Regions from separate parts of the Homo sapiens genome. Here region 2 is linked to region 1. The links come from fine-mapping of genetic effects on gene expression. A gene starts in region 1. The other region holds a variant in brackets. All regions are shown on one strand. Distances are from middle to middle. Region 1 holds the start of CD163L1 (CD163 molecule like 1). Region 2 has its middle 26 kb from the start of APOBEC1.

The links. PIP is the estimated chance that this variant, and not a neighbour inherited with it, causes the effect.
Region 2: its variant is fine-mapped to the expression of CD163L1 in testis (GTEx, PIP 0.99).

The regions. Positions count from the first base shown.
Region 1 is chr12:7,438,914-7,449,556 of GRCh38, forward strand. It overlaps CD163L1 (CD163 molecule like 1), which reads right to left and starts at 5,240. Exons shown (of 20, transcript NM_174941.6): 1 at 5,184-5,240; 2 at 2,241-2,333. The coding sequence starts at 5,214. It also overlaps the pseudogene LOC100419928.
Region 2 is chr12:7,634,904-7,645,546 of GRCh38, forward strand. No RefSeq gene overlaps it. Among named protein-coding and RNA genes, the nearest start is that of APOBEC1, 26 kb to the right of the region's middle. RefSeq lists an enhancer at 2,943-3,477 and silencers at 3,919-4,048, 5,130-5,229. The variant G/A (reference allele first, on the strand shown) is at 4,797.

The sequences.
Region 1 (10,643 bases):
TTAGGCACAGTTTTCTTCTCTAAGAATGCGTTCTTGTTCTCTAGCTTCCTGCTCTCTCTAGTGTCCTCAACCTTTCTCGGGGTCTTCTTTTTCCTCCTGCCTCTGACATCGGTATCCTCCTCAGCACTCATGGCACTGTCTAGGGGCTTCTCAAAGCCATGCTCCAGCCCTGTGTCCTGCCCTGCTCTCTCTCTTGCACTTTTAGTGTTTTGTTTCTCTTCTCTGCTGTCGGAATGTAGCCCTTCATTGTCATCCTCCGGAAAGGGGGAATCATTAAGTACACTTGATTCAGATTCCACCTGGGATTCGACAAATTTTCTTTTTTTGTTTTTCTATTTTCTTTGGGATCTTCTCTTGTTTTCGTCTTTAAATCTCTTATTTCACCCTTTTTAACTTTAATTCCTTTGTTTCTTTTACTTCATCTTTTTTGGGCTTTTTGGACTCCTTTAGTTCTTCTTTGGCTTCAGAAATTCTTTTCTTTGTCCTTAAATCAAACTAAACTTTCCAAGGAGCTCTCCAGGTCTGGTTTGGACTTGTCTTTTAGCTTCCCGGCCTTTGCTTTTTTCTTTTTCAGATCATCTGGGCTTTTCTCCTCTCTCTGCCTTAATTTTTTCTTTTTCTTCTTTGGGGAAGTATCTTCTTTTGTCTTACTTTGCTGACCGCTATCAGAGTTCGCCTCAAATATGTCGTTATTTAAGGATAGTCTCTGAATATCCTTCCTGACTGCTTTGGCTTTGTTCTCTGCAATTTTCTTCCTAAATTCAAGAAGCACTTCTTTACAGTCCTCCAGGTGAGTCTCGGGCTCCCAGGTATCGTCATCCGATGTATAGCCTTTCCAGCGAACTTTGTAAAGAATTTCACCCCCCTCGATCTTTATGTCCAGGATCTTCTCCACCTCGAACACATCCTCTCCGTCCTCCTCACTGTCGCCAAAGGCCTCCGCTCCTCTCGCGGCTGCGTCATTATCCCCGCCCACTACTCCAACTCCTTCTTCGACTTCGGCCAACTCCTCAGTGCTGTCGGCAGCTGACACAGGGGCTGCGGTCACACTCGCTCCCTCCGCAGCCTGCTCCATCCTAGCAGCTCCGCAAACCGCCGAGGAAAACCCGCTGCGACACACACCCCAGCAGCTCCTCGCGTTCCGCGCTCCGCCCTACTCCACATCAGCGGCGTAACGGAAGCCGACCAATGGCGGGCTTGGACCCGCCGCGCCAGCGTGGCCACGTCCCGCTCAGGCTCCGCCGCCTGCTCTTGGCTCCGGGTAGCCGGCCAGGGCGGACACTTAACACTCGCGTCGGCCGCGGCCGGCCCTCCGCGCAGGCAGCCCTGGAGGCGGCCCCGCGAAGCTCAGGAGCGCCCCTGCGACGGGGAGGGCGGACTGCGCAGTGCCGCGCCCGGGCAGGGACCTGGAGCCGCCGCCGCCCACCGGCCCTGCCGCCATCCCCCCACCGCCGCACGGGAAGCGGAAGTGGGTGCGGGACCGCGGCGCGCCCAGCCCGGCCAGCTCCCGCGCCCAGCCCGGCCCTTGAATTCATCTTTTTATGGCTGCATAGTATTCCATGGTGTGTAACACATATATATTTTTAATTGTATTTAATTCTTTGATTTCTGTATCTTGTAAGTTTTTATTAACCGATTTTTCTATTTGCAAAAATACAATATCCATATTTTTTCAGTGAGACATTTTACGTTTGGAAACTATCTTTATCTTTTTTCTTTTTTTTTTTTTTTGAGATGGAGTCTTGCTCTGTCGCCCAGGCTGGAGTGTAGGGGCACGATCTCGGCTCACTACAACCTCCACTTCCTGGGTTCAAGCAATTCTTCCACTTCAGCCCCCCAAGTAGCTGGGGTTACAGGTGCACACCACCACACCCGGCTAATTTTTGTATTTTTAATAGAGATGTGGTTTCACTGTGTTGGCCAGGCTGGTCTCGAACTCCTGACCTCAGGTGATCTCCCCACCTTGGCCTCCCAAAGTGCTGAGATTACAGGCCTGAGCCACTGTGCCCGGCCGGATTTGGAAATTCTCTTTATCTGAAGGAGAAAAATGTCAACGAAAAATGTAATATGAAATGCATAAAAATAATTTGGACACCTTTATTTACAGGGTATAGCTATTGAAGGTCCAACATTATTTTTACATGTTCTATTTCCCTCAAAATATGCACTTAGGGTAGTGAGTAGGGGAAAGGTAGAATAGAGGATTGTAAGCCCAAAAGTTATCATCCATCAGAACTCACTAAAACTGCTGATGAGAAAGCAGGAATTCAGGAGCAGGATGCAAGTTACCACAGCAGAGAAAAGGTTCTGATGACAGCAGCATCTTCCAAAATCTGGAGAAACAAAATATAGCAGGGTAGAATTTCATGTCTTTCTAAGAAATGTTAGATGACCTCAATGACTTAAATCCAAAATAAAATAGAAGGAGTAAGATGAATTATTCTTCCACCTGTCAAGGATACCGCACAAGAAAGTCCTTTTCCCAGGAAAAGCCACAGGACTAGCTCCTGTTTGTGATGGAAAGGCACCAAGTGGTTTGTAACAGGGCAGATATTTTAGCATGTGATTCATTGAAAAATTGCATTCTGTGTCCAAATATATTTTGTGGCTGTTTGGGGTAATTGATTAGCATTTTGGGTTACTGAGTAATTTTTACTTCTCAACTCTTTGACCCTCTCCTCATTTTTACTGTTTTTCCTCCTAACGTTATCCCCCTACTTTGTTCATTCATTTGCTCCTTTATTGAGTATGACATATGTACCCGATCTTGTGCTTCATTATGGGAATAGAGGAATGAATAAGTGTTCTTGCCTGTATTCCACTCAGTGGCTTGTGACTGGAATGTACAAGCAAATCAACATTTGGAGGTCACTATAATAACTGCTGATTGAGCTCATGATTATTTACCAAAGCTATCCACTTTTCTTCAGGGTCACTATTCTATTATTCCTACAGAATCTTGCCACTTCCTCACTTCTCCCTGTCTTTTCAGTCATGCTCAGTTCTGCATCTAATAAAGTTTATGCTACACGTGTGGGGAAAGAATGAACTAAGATAGGCAGGAGCAATACACAAGCGAAGGAGTTGAGAATTTATTCTGAGAGTTATTTGGAGACTATAAAGAATTGAATCAGTGTAATAAATAAAATTTACATTATAGAAAGATTATTTTAAAAGCAGATGGGATGATTAATTCATAGGGGTAAATAAATGTATAAGAAATACTTTAAAATAATATTTATCATCCTGTTTACTTGAGGGGTATGTAACAGCTGTAACTGTTAGAGAACTATCTTAAATAGTATTTTCATTAGTATCTTATGGAAAAGATGAAGTCAGAGTTAAACTGAGCATGTGTAATCCCAGACAACAAAAAACAAAAACCCTAAGAGGACAGAAGGAACAGTACCCATCGGGGAAAGGCCCATGCTGCTTGGGCTACGCAAAAGCAGAGACAGAAGGCGCAACCTGCTTTGGTGGACATCTTTAGTTTTTCAAATGATGCTTTGAAACTAAAATGGATCCCGGGCACTTCTCTAAGAAGTAATCCCAAGTGAGTTTGGCAACAGTCAGTAATAACCATAGAGGAGACTTTATTATTACAATTATCATCAGTCACATCCATCATTCTTGGAAAATGTACCCAAATCAAGAGAAAACCCTCCCTATAGAACGAAACAGGGAGAAATAAGTGTGGAATGGGCAATTAGTGTCCCAATTTCCTTCTTTTCCATCTTGTCCAAAACACTTTAAGTTGGTCTTCTTTTTTCTCTTATTTCTTTTGTTCCTAATAAGAATATTTAGTTCCATCAAACCTCATGTGTAGGATTATCCTAGGAGGCCATTTCATCTTCCTAAATCCTTCCAGGAAACTCTGAGTGCCCATTTGTAAGAATGGTTAGAGCTAAAGATGAACTATAAAGAAAAAAGAATAGTAAGCTCTGACACCAGCACAATCAAGATCTGATGAACGTGAACAAATAGTGCAGTAGGAAATTCTTGAGAAGGAGAATTAAAGTATAATTGCCAGAACTTGTGACCTTCTATATATCTAATACCATCTCACCAATTCAAGACCTTCATCTTTCCCATTCCTTTTCTAATTAGATACATGGCAGACAGCATGTTGAAAGTTAAATAATATTATCTTTTAAGTAACACACATGAATTATGAAGAACTGTAATTCATTAAGATGAGCCTTGCTAGATAGAAGGCAGCCAAGCTTCTCAAACTGTAGAAACCCTTTTTCAAAAAGGAGGCTTTGAAAAATATCAGAACTTCTGCTGGTTTTCTAGAAATGTGCTGGTCTTTAGTCATAAGCAAAACAGTTACAAAATATTAAGTTGACTTGTAGTAATTGCACTGAGGAATGGCACAGAGACACAATGCCAACAGGAGTAGCACTGCATTTTCAAAAGCCTCAATCCTATTTAGGAGTTATAAGTCCCAAATACAGCAAAAACCTCCCTTCGTGATTCTTTATTTCCACGAAATGTCTATGAAGTGCAAGTGCAAAGGTTACTACTAATTTCAGATGTGCTGTGAAAGACTTCTTAGCCATGTATTCCTTTCTTAGTCCTTACTCTTTAGGGTCCATCAAAGACTTGTTCTTTGTTTTTTATCATAATGTCTTCTTATTTATTTGCTTTATTAAAATTTATAGCAGAAAGATCAAGGGCTCAGACTTAGCTGGTCCTGAATTTAAATTACACTTGAGATTCTACTACATGACCTTACATAAGTCAGTTAGTCCTTATAAGTCTTCATTTTCCATCTACCAATGGAGACAATAATATCTATAAAATAGGTTACATGTGTGAATTAAATTGAGATGACCTAAAGCATTTACTGTAGTACCTGGCACTTGATAACAATAAGTTTCTAATTTATCCCTTCTTTCTATTTCCACAACTTCATATCCTTGTGTGACTTCTAATCTCCAGTCTTTATAATACATTTTCTGTTTACTTTATTAATGTTTTCCTCCTTTCTTGGATTTCAGTTTTGCCTCCAATATTGCTGCTACTCTAAGTTCCACAAAACTTTCAATTTTTTTATATTTCTCATGTCCTGTTTTCTTTTTACCTTACTACATAATATTTATATCTGTTTGTTGTTACACATATTCTTAGTATACCCACCATCTCCCAAATGGCAGAGCAAAATAAAAGCAAAACCTTACCAATATGCCACGAGTTTTGAGGCAGCATCATTATGGGTCTATCTCTTCCTGAGTCCTGATGTAACTCCTGGGTCCTCTTATATATAATCTCAGAACTGCTCATGAGGTGAAAACAGATCTGCTATTTGGAAATGACAATACTGTAAAATTGAGTTCATAGTTTTCCAAAGGGGAAGTCATTATAAAAGCTGAGGTTGTTTTTTCTTTGCTACTTCCTTATCACGTTAGGATATGGAAAACAAAGGAAGTTAAATAATATGCCTGGAAAGTCTCACAGAATAAAGGGAACTGTAAATTGCCACTCTAAATTTTCAAAAAGACTCATGTTTCACATTTAAAAATTTTTGTTCCATAAATGTGATCTTGTCAGCACAGTTTTATAGATATTTATCTAAAAGATAAAATATATCATCAGGTTTGTTTACTTTAGCATACATATTTCAACCAGTTATGCTAAAAGGATCAGAAGAGGTTACATTGCTGAAAACTGGCTAGTCTACGAAAGCTTTGCTGATGAAACATGAGCACAGATAAACATATTTGAAAAAATTTCATGTCTATAAAAATGTTTAACAAAATGGAGTCCTTTAAAATTAGTTTTTTATTGTTAATGATTATGTAAAAGAAAATAAAGCTTAGTCATCAAATGAGTTTGGAAAACATTCATTTAAATGATTTCAACCATTAGGTAGAAAACCATGAGTGGCTTCTGAGCTCATAGTGATTGTTCTGTGTTCGGATAGGCCTGTATGTCCTGCCCTGCTTCTTTGGGAAAATTGCTTTTTCCCTTCCTTGATATGTTAAGAATGGTAGATCACATCTTTTCACACGCCCACGTCTCCCCGATTACAGTGACAAGTTCAAGGAAAAGCCAATGACCCAAGTGAGCCCATCAGAGTGTTTGCCAGGATTTTTCGTCCTATACTTCCATGTCGAGTAGGCCTATTAGTAAAAAAGAAGCTAATATATACAGAAATTAAAATGAGATATAAAATATCTAAATACTTTAGATAAATAAGTCCTTATAAATCTCCATTGATAAATTCAAGAACTTTATTTTTTCTTGTCCCTTTTCAACTTAGATACCTGACAAGGCTTTATATAACAGAGGTTAAATAAAATTCTGCTGCAATTAATGCCAAATGTATTTTGAAGTCCAATTAAACATCGGAGCTTGCTAGATATGAGCGAGATGTGCCTCTGAAATGATAAAGTGCCATTCTCAAAATATAGTCTCTTTCTTACTTCTCAGAACTGAGGTAGGTGCCCAAAGTCAGAAGAAATCAGGAGGAAAACAGGGAGAATTTTTTCTTGGAAAGCTTGAGATGAAATGTCTTTGGGGAAATGTAATTCACTAACTAGGATAAGTCACATGATGGAAGAATGGAAGACACAAAAAGAGGATGCTGAAACTTGTTTTAGTATATTATTTCTCAGCCATGCTGAGAAAATTTCCTGAAATTTTTAAAATACAGTATGACCGGAAACGCTTTCATGCTAACAGAATCCATAGCAAACTAACTGCTGATAAAATGATCTCACAGAAGTGGGAACTGAAAATAGAAAACAATGAAAACCTGATTATTGCTATTCTTTGATAGAATAAATGTCTCCACAATATCTCTGCTACTGTTTTGAGTTTCTCCCATTTCTAGACACCCAAGTTCTCTCACTCTCAAATATTTCGTAGCAGGTTCTAATCTAAATGAGTCCCTTTCTTGCCTTTATGATAAAAAAGCATAAGGGATGTGATAACTATCTCTTTGGGGAAATAGCTGGATATTCTGCTTCAAGATCTCACACAGGGCTATAATTACATTGTAAACTGGGGCTGTGGTCTCACCTGGAAGCTTGACTGAGGAAGGATCTGCTCCCATGGCCACTGCTATTCCATGGACTGAATTGTGTCTCCTCAAAATTTATAGATTAAAGCAATAACCCCCCAGTGTGACTATGTTTCAAGACAGGGCCTTTAAGGAGGTAATTAAGGTTACTTGAGATTATAAGGGTGAGGCCCTAATCCAATAGGATTGATGTCCTTACAAGAAGGGACACCAGAGCTTGTTCTCTCTCTTTCCACAAATGTGCAGAAGAAAGGCCACGTGAGGACACAGACAAAAAGTGGATGTCTAAAAGCCAGCAAGAGAGCCCTCACTAGAAACCAAATTTCCTGGTACCTTGATAATGAACTTCTAGCCTCCAGAAATGTGAAAAATAAATTTCTGTCATTTTTAAGTGACTCAGTCTACAGTACTTTGCTATGTTGATCCAAGCAGACAAATGCAGATGTTGGTACTGAGAAGGGAGATGCTTCTGTAACAGATAACCTAAAAATGTGGAAGTGCCTTTGGAACTGGGTAGTGAATAGAGGCTAGAAAAGTTTTCAGGTGCATGCCTGAGAAAGCCTAAATTGCCTTGAAGGGACTGTTAATAAAAACATGAATGCTAAAAGCAATTCTGATGAAGTCTTCCATGGAAGTGAGGAACATGTTATTGGAAACTGCAGAAAAGATGATTTTTGTTTTAAAGTGGCAAAGAACTTGTCTGAATTGTGTCTTAGTGTTTTGTAAAGTGTAGGACTTGTGAATTACAACTTTGGATTTTTAAAAGGGAAGATATATAAGCAAAGTGTTAAAAGCACAGCCTAGTTTTTCCTAATTGCTCATGGTAAAAGGCTAGAGGGGAAAGATAAATTGACAGCATTGTTAAGCAAAAAACAAAAACAAAAGCAACCCAGAAACTGAAGATTTGGAAAAATCTCGGCCTATTTATATAGCAAAAAAATGATAAAATGTGTTCTGGAGAGAACATCAATGGTGTGGCGCCTCAATCACTCCATAGGGAAATTAACCATGACTTTTTTCATCCACCTTAGCGGGAGCCTTGAATAGAGATGGGATTATATCAGCAGAGACCCTGCCAGTTTGGACCAAAGAGAATAGAAATGGGTTGAAATAAATCATGGAAAGCTTTCTGACTTCTGAGATTCTGTAGGATGAAATAATAGAGATATTCAGCTGTGAACATGCTTTATCCTTCAAGGAAAGGGATAAATGACCTTGAAGGTGATTCAGAGGTCATCAGTGCTGTAACTCCCACTATAGGCCCAGAGGAAAGGCTGTTTTGTCCTCAGTTTCAGAGGATGGGACCATCTCCTCAGTTTCAGTAGACCAGGCTGCCTCCATCCGTGCCTGAGGAGTGGAGCAGCCACAAAAAGTTTTAACAGTCTGCTACTTACAGCTGTGGTGGTGACAATGCCACCCCAGTGGGCCTGGAGGGCAGAGGATTCAGCCAAAGATAATTATTGTTGAATCTTAAGATCTAATGGAATTTGCCACTTCTCCTTTTTGGAATGAGAATGTCTGTCTTATGCCTGTCCCACTACTGTTTTTTGGATGCACATAACTTGTCTGGCTTCACAGGTTCACAACTGGAAAGGAATTTTGCCTCAGGATGAATCATAACTTGAGTCTCACCCATACCTGATTTAAATGAGACTTTGCACTTTAGACTTTAGAATTGATGCTGGAAAGGGTTAAGACTTTATGTGTTGTTGGAATGGGATTAATATATTTATCATGTGAGAATAACATGAATTTGGGAGTGGAGGGTAGAATGTTACGGAATGAATTTTGTCCCCCACAAAATCCACAGGTTGAAGCCCTAATGTGACTATATTTGAAGATAGGGCCTTTAGGGAAGTAATTAACATTACATAAAGTTATAAGAGTGAAGTCCTAATCCAGGATTACTATCCTTATAAGAACAAAACAAGACACAGAGAACTCTCTTCACACATGCAAAGAGGAAAGGCCATGTGAGGACACAGAGAGAAGGTGGCTGTTTGCAAGCCAGGAAGAGAGCCCTCACCAGAAACCAAATTTGCTGGCACCTTGAACATGGACTTCTAGCCTCCATAACTGTGAGAGCATAAATTTCTGTAGCTGAAGCCACCCAGTCTGTGGTATTTTGTTATGACAGCCAGAGCAGACTAATACAGTCCCTAATATGGTTGCTGGCAGAATGTTGTACTGAGGGGCTCAGTTTCTTGCCAAATTGGACTGAGGCTGCCCTGAGTTTCTTACCAGGAGGACATCACCCATAGAGCAGAAAGCGTGTAAAATCTTGCAGAGAGAGAGAGAGAGAGAGAAAGAGAGAGAAATATGGAGTCACAGTCCTTTCTAACCTAATCTTGAAATTGATATCTCAGCACTTTTGCCATATTCTATTCATTAGAAGCAAGTTACTAGATCCAGCCCACACACAAGGGGAGCAGATTACACTGGACATGAATACATGAAGGCAGCCATAATTTGGAACAATTTTGGAAGAAATCTACAAGAAGTGAACAAAAAATAGACCAGAGAAACCAAAAGCTATAGGACAATATGCAGCAGACTTATAATTGGAATGCTAGGAGAAAAATGATGACAGAATGGGGCAGAAGAAAGACTCAGAGAAATAATGATTAGGAATAATGACAGACACCAAACCACAGTACAATGTACTTAAAGAACACCAAGTAAGAAAAGAATAACACACACACTCACATACTCTCTACCTAGGTATAACATATTTAAACCTGCACAGGCATGAGAGAGAGAGAGAGAGAGATACAGAGAGAGAGAGAAAGAGACAGAGAGACAGACAGAGAGAGAGGCAGCCAAAGGAAAAAAAGCACATTACGTATATATAGAGAGAGAGAGAAAAAAAAATTACAGACGACCTCTTGTCAAAATTGTGCATGCATGAAGACAATGAAGATGATATCTACTAAGTGCTAAAAGAAAGAAAATAACCTGTCAATCAAGAATACTCTGCATAGTGAGTATATATTTCAAAACTGAAGGAGAAATTTTAAAAACCCTTAAACAAAGCTTGAGAGACGTCATTACTAGCAGACCTATATTAGGCTTAGTGATTTACTTCCAAAGCATGGAGTATGAAAGATGGTAAATAACTTTACAGCGGAGAAATCTAGCAAATACCACTTCAAACAAATGATCAACAGTCACATCCCCAGAGATAACATGTGTATATCATGTATGCCCTGATATTGTGTGATGAGTAGGGCACTGCTGTGGTGTTCTTTCCCAAACCCCATTACTCCAATCTATTCATGAGTAAAACATGAGGCAAACCCAAGGTGAGGGACATGCTAAAAAACACCTGACCAGTACTCTTCAAAACTGTCAAGGTCATAAGAAATAAGAAAAGACTGAGAAACTGGCATAGACCAGAGGACACTATAAAGACAGGACAACAAAATGCAATGTGATATCCTGGATTGGATCCTGAAACAGAAAAGAGACATTAATTTTAAAAAATCTGGAGTTTATTTAACAGTAATTGGGTTTGTTTTCCAGGGCTGCCATAGCACAGTACCACTAACTGGGTGGCTTAAAACAATAGCAATTTATTTTTTTTACAGTTCTGGAAATGACAAGAATGAAATCAAGA
Region 2 (10,643 bases), 200 kb after region 1:
AAAGTGCACTGTACTAAAACCACCTACCTAGAATCTTCCCCATCTTCATTCTTAAAACACTTTTCTCTCCACTTGGCTTCTGGGATAAAAGTTTTCTGATTTATCTTTTATCTTATTGGCTACTGCTACTCAGCCAACTTTGCTGTTTCTTCGTCTTTGTCTTGATCTCCAGATGTTGGTAAATCCTGTGGATTGGTCTTCAATTTTCTTATGTCCACAATTCATATTCACATGTCTAAGTAAGGTCAACCATTCCTGTGACTTTAAGACAATGCATATGTAAAGCCCATTTTTTTAATCCCCAGATTTTACCTTTTCTATCAAATTCAGACATGAATAACTGTCCACTTGTATGTCTAATAAACATTTTAAAAGTTAACATAATTAAATGGAACTCTTGACTTCACTTTCAAACCACTCCTAGCCCTGTGTTCCTCATTTCAGTTAAGTGACAGTATCATTCATCTGGTTGTTCTTGCTAAAAATGTAAAAGTCATGAGTTTTCCCTTTGTAGCATACATTTATTCCATCAACAAATCCTGTCAACTAAACCTTTAATATATATCCCAAATCTTACTACTTCTCACCACTTGTATCTTTATTTCAGTAGAGATAATAGTCATATTTCCTAGTATGGATGAAAATAGTCAAACTCTATAAAATATGTGAAGAGATTTATTCTGAGCCAAATATGAGTGACCATGGCCCATGACACAGCCCTCAGGAGGTCCTGAGAACATGTGCCCAGGATGGATGGGGTACAGCTTGCTTTTATATGTTTTAGGAAGGCATGACACATCAAATACATTTAAGAAATACATTGGTTTGGTTCAGAAAGGCAGGACAACTCAAAGCAGGGGCTTCCAGGCTATAGGTAAATTTAAACATTTTCTGTATGACAGTTGGTTGAGTTTATCTGAAGAGCTGGGATCAATAGAAAGGAAATGTCCAGGCCGGGTGTGGTGGCTCACACCTGTAATCCCAGCACTTTGGGAGGCCAAGGCAGGTGGATCACCCAAGGTCAGGAGTTCGAGACCAGCCTGGCCAACATGGTGAAACCCTGTCTCTACTAAAAATACAAAAATTAGCTGGGCATGGTGGTGGGTGCCTGTAACCCCAGCTACTTGGGAGGCTGAGGCACAAGAATCTTTTGAACCCAGGAGGCGAAAGTTGCAGTGAGCCGAGATTGCGTCATTGCACTCCTGCCTGGGTGACAGAGTGAGACTCTGTCTCAAAAAAAAGAAAGGTATGTTCAAGTTAAGATAAAGAATTGTGGAGACCAAGTTTTATTGTGCAGAGGAAGCTCTCTGATAGCAGACTTCAGAGACAGCAGGTTGTAAAATGTTTCCTATCAGACCTAAAAGGGTACCTGGCTCTTAGTTGATTATCTCCTGGATCCAGAAAGGAAGAAAGGAAAACAAAGGGGAAAGGGGATTCTCTATAGAATGTGGATTTTTCCCACAAGGGACTTTGCAGGGCAATTTCAAGGTATGGCAAGAAAATATATTTTGGGGTAAAACATTTTTATTTTCTTTCTAGTTATGCCAGAGTCAGATTGGAAAGTAAGTCGTAATATACAGGATTAAATAAAACCCATCTGATGAGAATTTATGGTTTGTGGGTCATGACTCCCCATACCCCTTAATAAGGAATTTAGGCCAGATAAAAAATCAGAGCTTAGTCTTTACTAGATATCTGCTGTATTTCTAACTGGACTTCCTTACTTCACTTTTGCCCCACTATATCTGTTTTCCATACAGCAGGCAACCAGTTCTTGTTAATACATAATAAATCCTGCACTACCACAAATTTCTAAAATCCAGTTTACTCAAAAGAAAATCCAAATTTCTTTCCATGACCTATACTTCCCTACATAATCTTACCTTTGCTTGTCTCCCTGGCCCTATTTCCTACATTTTCTCACCTCATTTATTCCACTCTAACCACATTTTTTATTCCTTAAAAAATGCCAAATTTGTTTTGTTCCAATTTCAAATGCCTGCACCTTCTTCCATCTGCTTGAAATAAACTTTCTCCAGATTTTCACATGACCTGCTCATTTACTTTATTACCAGTATCCGCCCAGGTGCAGTGGCTCATGCCTGTAATCCTAGCACTTCGGGAGGCCGAGGTGGGCAGATCACAAGGTCAGGCGTGCGGGACCAGCCTGGCCAATATGGTGAAACCCCGTCTCTACTAAAAATACAAAAATTAGCCAGGCATGATGGCACGTGCCTATAATCCCAGCTACTCAGTAGGCTGAGGCAGGAGAATCGCTTGAACCCCAGAGGCAGAGGTTGCAGTGAGCCAAGATCAAGTCACTGCACTCCACTCCGGATGACAAAGAAAGACTCCATCTCAAAAAAAAAAGAAAATTACCAGTATCCTTGGCAAGTCCATCTAAAATAGGATTCACTGCTTCCAACACTCTCTAGCCTTTTACTTTGCTTTACTTTGACTTTACTTTCATTTTACTTTGCTTTACTACAACAATATCTATCATGAAGGTTGATATCAAATGATAATTTAGCTGATACAATTTTTGTTGAGCCTCCAACTGTGAATGAGAAAATAAAGCCTAAAGTTCATAGTACAGCTAATGACCATTAGATATTTTCTCTGTGAAAGTTTGCTAATCAGCTGAATAATTTTTCTCCTATAGGAATAGCAATAATTATAGTGGCTCATATAAAATATGCTCATGTATTAACATCCATCTCTACTGTAAATATATAATGAGCTTTGTGTTAGTCTGCTTGCATTACTATAAAAGAATACCTGAGGCTGGGTAATCTATAAAGAAAAGGGGTTAAGTTGACTCATAGTTCTACAGGCTGTGCATGAAGCATAGTGCCAGCATCTGCTTCTGATGAGGGCTTCAGGAAGCTTACAATCATGGTGGAAGGCAAAGGGGCGACAGTGTGCCACATGGTGAGAGTAGGAGCAAGCGAGATGCCAGACTCTTAAACAACAAGCTCTTGTGTGAACGAACAGTGAGAACTCATTACTTCAGGAGGGATCTACCCACATGACCCAAACACCTCCAAATAATACAGGAATTATTAAGAAATAACTTTTAGGCCGCTAGAAAGGGTAAAGGTTCTCAGTGGAAATTTTCCTGTAATAAGAAGCAACCCCCAAACCATTTCTTTTCTAACAGAAAGGCAGCTTGAAAAACCAGGCCGGCAAGCTTTGATATGCAAATGCTGGCGATTAGAAACTGGGTCCACCCAACATGGCCAACAGGAAGAGTGCCACCCTCTCCTCCTCATCACTACATGTGCCAAGTGTCATGATTGCCTCCAGATAACATGGATATCATGGTGACCTGCATTTGCATATTAAAGGAGTAAGGTAGGAGTGCCAGGTTTTTCACGGGCTATGTGAATGACACGCCTGGTCAAACCAATCTCCTGGGCCCTATGCAAATTAGACACCTCCTCCTCCAGCCTCCTGCTATAACAAACTACTCTGCCACACACGGGGTTTCTCTCTGGGAGCCCCCCTCCCTCTGTCCCTGTACTGGGAAGCTTCTTCCTTCTTTCTTGCTTATTAAACTCTCCACTCCTTAAAACCACTCTACATGTGTCCATGTCGCTTTATCTAAAACGATGTTAGACCAAGGACCCTGCTGTTCTTCCATTCATCAGAGCAGTTATCATTTTGGTTGCATTGACCGGGAATTCATTCATCGGAGTGGTGACTATAGAGCGAGCCCCAACCTCAAATCTCTCCTTCAATTTCAAGGCTCTCTTCTTACTATCCTGTTGCAAAATTTTCCTTCTTTCTCTATCCACGGTCTCTTACTCTCTCTCTGTGAAAAGTGCAGGGAGTTTTACAGTTCAGTGAAACAGGTCTGCTAGGAAAGATGGCAAACGCAGCAGGCAGTAACTCAACAAGCCCGCTCTCTGTGGCTGCGCTGGTGAGCATATAGTATTTCTAAGCCAACAGCGCCACCTAGTGGAAGTAGAAATCCTCTTCAGGGGCCACATTTTTTACGGTAACACTGAACTTCCTTTTGCACCACCAGAAATCAGGCTCTAACCTACTTCTGTGAACCGGAAAGTTCTGCCTTCAGCAATTAGAAGTAATATGTCCTCGACCGGGCATGGTGGCTTACGCCTGTAATCCCAACACTTTGGGAGGCCAAAGCGGGTGGATCACGAGGTCAGGAGTTCGAGACCAGCCTGGCCAATATGGTGAAACCCCGTCTCTACTAAAAACACAAAAATTAGCTGGGCGTGGTGGTGCACACCTGCGGTCCCAGCTGCTCAGGAGGCTGAGGCTATTGAATTGCTTAAAACGGGGAAGCAGAGGTTGCAGTGAGCTGAGATTACGTCACTGCACTCCAGCCTGGGTGACAGTGAGACTCTGTCTCAAAAAGAAGTAATATGTCTGCTGCCACATTTTAGTCTTGATATTGTCCCATAAGCAGGAAAATGGCCATTCTGTTCCTACGCTCTTTTAAGACATCTAATCTGTTTCCTGTTAAAATGGTATAATTAGTAGGGAGATTTTAAGTTCAGAAGTTAACCAGAACCATTTTTCTGAGGGTAAATGGTTTGGCATGGGCCATAATAGCAGGCAGTCTAGCACATTGCCTCTGTTAAAGGAGCCTTGACCAAAAACAACACAGTCTCTCCAAAGATCAATTTTTCAGGGAGCCAGGTAGATCACATAGGCTTAGGAAGTCAAAGGGAATCACACAAGGCAGATAAGCTAAGGTTGCGTGGGTAAAGTGTGGTTAATCCCATTGAGAGGTGACAGCGTGCTAGCAGTCCTCACAGCTCTCGCTC[G/A]CTCTCGGCGCCTCCTCTGCCTGGGCTCCCACTTTGGCGGCACTTGAGGAGCCCTTCAGCCCACCGCTGCACTGTGGGAGCCCCTTTCTGGGCTGGCGAAGGCCGCAGCCCGCTCCCTCAGCTTGCAGGGAGGTGTGGAGGGAGACGCGCGAGCGGGAACCGGGGCTGCGCGCGGCGCTTGCGGGCCAGCTGGAGTTCCGGGGGGGCGTGGGCTTGGCGGCCCCGCACTCGGAGCAGCCGGCCGGCCCTGCCGGCCCGGGGCAGTGAGGGGCTTAGCACCCGGGCCAGCGGCTGCGGAGGGTGTACTGGGTCCCCCAGCAGTGCCAGCCCACCGGCGCTGCGCTCGATTTCTCACCGGGCCTTAGCTGCCTTCCCGCGGGGCAGGCCTTGGGACTGCAGCCCGCCATGCCTGAGCCTTCCCCCGCCTCCGTGGGTTCCTGTGCAGCCGGAGCCTCCCCGACGAGCGCCGCCCCCTGCTCCACGGCGCCCAGTCCCATCGACCGCCCAAGGGCTGAGGAGTGCAAGCGCATGGCGTGGGACTGCAGCGCCGGTGCGGGATCCACTGGGTGAAGCCAGCTGGGCTCCTGAGTCTGGTGAGGACGTGGAGAATTTATGTTTAGCTCAGGGATTGCAAATACACCAATGGACACTCTGTATCTAGCTCAAGGTTTGTAAACACACCAATCAGCACCCTGTGTCTAGCTCAGGGTTGTGAGCGCGCCAATCGACACTCTGTATCTAGCTGCTCTGGTGGGGCCTTGGAGAACCTTTGTGTGGATACTCTGTATCTAACTAATCTGATGGGGAGGAGGAGAACCTTTGTACCTAGCTCAGGGATTGTAAACGCACCAATCAGCGCCCTGTCAAAACAGACCACTCGCCTCTACCAATCAGCAGGATGTGGTTGGGGGGGGGCCAGATAAGAGAATAAAAGCAGGCTGCCCGAGTTGGTAGTAGTAACCCGCTCGGGTGTCTCTCTGCCTTGGTGGGGCTTTGTTCTTTCGCTCTTGGGGTCCATACTACTTTTGTGAATTACAGCACTCACCACGAAAGCTTGCGAGACCACGAGCCTACCGGGAGGAACGAACAACTCCCGACGCGCTGCCTTAAGAGCTGTAACAGTGACCGCAAAGGTCTGCAGCTTTACTCCTGAGCCCGCCAGACCATGAACCCACCAGAAAGAAAAAACTGAACACACCTGCACATCAAAAGGAACAAACTCCAGACGCGCCACCTTAAGAGCTGTAACACTCACCGTGAGGGTCTGCGGCTTCATTTTTGAAGTCAGTGAGACCAAGAACCCACCCATTCCGGACACACCATCACTTAGTTCATCCGCTCCCATGGCTTGGGGGACCATGCTTACAATCGTGGGTGGCACATTTAACAGGGTCCCAGGAACCAGGGAAGGAAAACAGGACACTCCACTGTGTTATTCTCCGTCGGGGGTCATAGGGAATCAAAGTAGATTAAAAGGACACTTTTATTGCTTTTCTTTCTAGATGGGTAACAGATTATCTTCAGTTTGTGCCCCTCTGGCGTGCACTCTGAAACACTGAAACTTTCTTAGCCTCAGGACATTAAAGAGAAGAGCAACTCATTTTATTTTGCACAAGGGCATGGTATTTTTACTGAAACTTTGCAAGCAGTGTAAGATCAACCCAGCTCTTTTAGGAATCATATCAGGCACGCTCACTGAAAATAATTCCCCAAAATTAGAAAAGCAACTTCCAGAGGAGCCATCTGAAGATCCCCCTTCTTTGGGGGCCCCTTCAAGTTCCCTTCTCGTTACAGCCCCTTAGGCCTGTAATAAAGGGAGACTTAGCCAATTTTCTCACAACCCTGATAGGTATATAAAAGCTTTCCAGGCTGGGCGCAGTGGCTCACGCCTGTAATCCCAACACTTTGGGAGGCTGAGGCGGGCAGATCACGAGGTCAAGAGATTGAGACCATCCTGGTCAACATGGTGAAACCCCGTCTCTACTAAAAATACAAAAATTAGTTGGGCGTTGTGGCATGTGCCTGTAATCTCAGCTACTTGGGAGGCTGAGGCAGGAGAATCGCTTGCACCCAGGATGTGGAGGTTGCAGTGAGCCAAGATCACGGCACTGAACTCCAGCCTAGCAATAGAGTGAGACTCCGTCTCAAAAAAAAAGCTTTCCAAAATTTAACTCAGGTATTTCACCTCAGATGGAAGGATGTTATGTTGCTCCTAAGTCAGACCCTCACTGCAGCTGAAAAGCAGGCAGCTCTGATTTCAGAGATTAGCAACATATCTCCTATAATACACCAAAAGGGAAGAAAGCAGATAAGGAAAGAGAAGAAATAGCAGAAATGCCATTCCCAATTGGGAGGAAAGCAGTTTCCCTTGACAACCCTAATTGGGACCCCAATAACTCAGGAGATGAAAAGGAAGCTCTTTTTTAAGTGTGCATTAGAGGGCCTACGGAAAACCAGGGCCAAACCTCTCAATTACTCTAAACTGTCCATGATAAACAGCCAGATGAGAATCTTGTAGCCTTTATGGAAAGGCTGAGAGAGGCACTAACAGAACACCCCTCCTTATCCCCTGATTCAGTCGAGGGACAGCTCATCCTAAAGGACAAGTTTATTAGACAGGCAGCTGCCAATATTAAAAGGAAACTACACAAGCAAGCTATAGGACCAGATAGCACCTTAGAGAACTTCCTGAAAGTGGCCACTTTGGTCTTTTGTAATAGGAACCAGGAGGAGGCCCAAAAGAAAGAGACAATGGTCAGAAGGACAGAGACTCTAGCAGCAGCTTTGCAGGCTTGCAAAGTCCAGGATCCCGGAGGTGCATCTGCTAGTTGCTATCAGTGTGGCAGGCCAGAGCATGTTAAGAAAGAATGCCCATACAGCAAGACAAAGCCACCTCAACCCTCTCCAGCCTGTGGCAGAGACAACAGGAGATGGAACTGCCCCCAGAGGTGGAGGTCACTGGGTTCAGAACCAGTCTTACTGATGATCCAGCAGAACTGGATCCCGGGGCTCAAACTCCAGCTCCAGCGGCTCAAACTGCCATTACAGCACAGGAGCTCTGAGTGATTCTGGAAATTAAAAGAAGGAAAGTAGACCTCTTTCTAAACACTCAGCCAGTCTCTCTTTTTTCTCCTCTCTAATCCAGGCCTCCCCTCTTCCCATAGCACAACCAGAAGGGGCATCTCAGGAAAAACTCTACTCCAGTATTTTTCTCAACCTTAGTTGACACGTGCTTCCAAGCCATTATCATGACAGCTCGCTAATCAGAAAAGCCTCCAAGTTAACCCTAGGAAATAATTTAACTGTTTACACCCCACATAATGTGGCAGGATTACTGTCCTCTAGGGGGAGCTCTTAGCCAACAAACCGCCAGTAAAGCAAGAAGTACATAAGGCAGGATAAGCAGTAGTCACTCTAAATAACGTCTCTCCCCAGGCACAAGCGCTCAATTAGCTGAGCTAACAGCTTTTACAAGCACACTTGGATTAAGCAAGGGAAAGGTAGCTAACATTTATACTAACTCCAAGTATGCTTTCTTGGTTCTCCATGCTCATGCTGCCATTTGAAAGAAAAGACATTTTCGGCCAGGCGGTGGCTCACGCCTGTAATCCCAACACTTTGGGAGGCCAGACGGGCGGATCACGAGGTCAGGGGATCAAGACCATCCTGGCTAACATGGTGAAACCCCGTCTCTACTAAAAATACAAAAAATTAGCCAGGCGTGGTGGCAGGCGCCTGTAGTCCCACCTACCTGGGAGGCTGAGACACGAGAATGGCGTGAACCTGGGAGGTGGAGGTTGCAGTGAGCCGAGATCGCGCCACTGCAGTCCAGCCTGGGCGACGGAGCGAGACTTCGTCTCAAAAAGAAAGAAAGAAAGAAAAGACATTTTCTTACCATTAATAGATCCCCTATAAAAATATCACCAGGAAATTAGCAGGTTATCTTCAGTTTTTCTTCCACAAGAAATAGCAGGAATGCATTGTAAGGAACATCAAAAGGGAACAAATGAGGTAGCCAAAGGAAATAGGTTAGCTGATCAGGCAGTTAAGTCAGAGGCAAGGAAGCCTCAAGCCGTTAAGGCACTTAAGCCCCTTCTAATCTAGGAAGGCTCCATAAGAAAAATTAAACCTCAGTATTTCCCTGCAGAAATAAAATAGGCCACTTCTCGAGGACGTAGTTCCCAGCCCTCAGAAAGGCTACAGTCAGAGGATGGCAAACTCCATTTGCCAGCCTCCAGCCAATGTCCTTAAAATCCTTCACCAAGCTTTTCACTTGGGAAAGGATAAAACTTATCAGTGTGCTCAGAGATTGTTTTCAGGCAGGAAACCTCTAAATTGGTTAAGCATGTAACCTCTCTAGCTCACTTCCAACAAGAATTAACGCAACTAACAGAAGTCCAACCCCAGGAAACAGAACCACCTTTATTTAACCCAGGAAATTTGGTGTTAGTGAAAACCCTCATCTCTGTCTCCTTCCCTAAGCCAAGCTGGGAAAGGCCCTACACTGTTCTTCTTTCAACACCATTGGCAGTAAAAGTTACAGGAATCAACTCCTGACTTCCACATTCAAGTCAAAGCCTGAACAGCTGAGGGATCAACCTCTGACAGCCCAGAGGCACGTCCTGAATATCAATGTGGAGAAATAGAAGATCTTAAACTGAAAATCATAAAAGATAAGTAACTGAGTGAGGGCTACTCCTACCTCATCGGGTACTTTTTATTATTTCTGCCTTTCCTCTCAAAATCTGCCACCAAATATTAAAATTCCTTTTAAGGCATATTTGCAGCGAGATTTAATTATACATGGGATTGCATTTGTAACTTTGTAGATCCCCAAAGGGAAATGTTATATCTAGGCAAGTAAAGACTTAAACGAAAATTATTTACTATGCCACTCTTGTGGGAAATGTTATAGTTACACCACTATTTGCGATGGAACTATACACCGTGGCACCCACAATGCGGAATTTTGGTTGTAAAATTCTAATTGTTATAATATTTTGCCTGATTATCTTCCTTATCTTAGGATTAATAATTGCAGGAAAGATTTAGTCAAGGTTATTTTGCTTATAGCAGGAGTGATAGTTATGGATAAGAAGCAAGCATAAGGCCGGGCGCGATGGCTCATGCCTGTAATCTCAGCACTTTGGGAGGCCGAGGCAGGTGGATCACCTGAGGTCGGGAGTTCGAGACCAGCCTGACCAACATGAAGAAACCCCATCTCTACTAAAAAATACAAAATTAGACAGGTGTGGTGGCGCATGCCTGTAATCCCAGCTACTCGGGAGGCTGAGGCAGGAGAATTGCTTGAACCTGGGAGGAGGAGGTTGTGGTGAGCTGAGATCGTGCCATTGCGCTCCAGCTTGGACAACAAGAGCGAAACTCCATATCAAAAAAAGAAAAAAAGCAAGCATGAAAGTATAAAAGTTTTACTATCATTAAGTTTGATATGACTTTTTACTGAAAGTTGGTAATAGGATGCATTCTAAACTATTAAAAGAAGTTTATAAAGAAAGATTTTATATAAGGAAGGATTGTGTATGGTAAATTCTTGTCCTAAAAGGAAATGACTGGTTGTTTACAGGAAGGATGTTTAGGACAAGTCAGAGAGTTTGAGTATGTTGTAAGAGGGTCTGTGAAAGTCACAAAAGAATTTACTAATTAAAGGAAAGGAATTGCCAAGATTAATGCTAAAGTTATTTTAGCCACCCAATATCATATTTCTCCCAATCATATTGCAACTCACAAAAATGGCCTATGCCAAAAATTATTCTCTAATGGGAAGTCAAGGGGAAAATGTATGCTTTTCTCAAGGAAAATGTATGCTTTTCTCAAGGAAAATGTTAC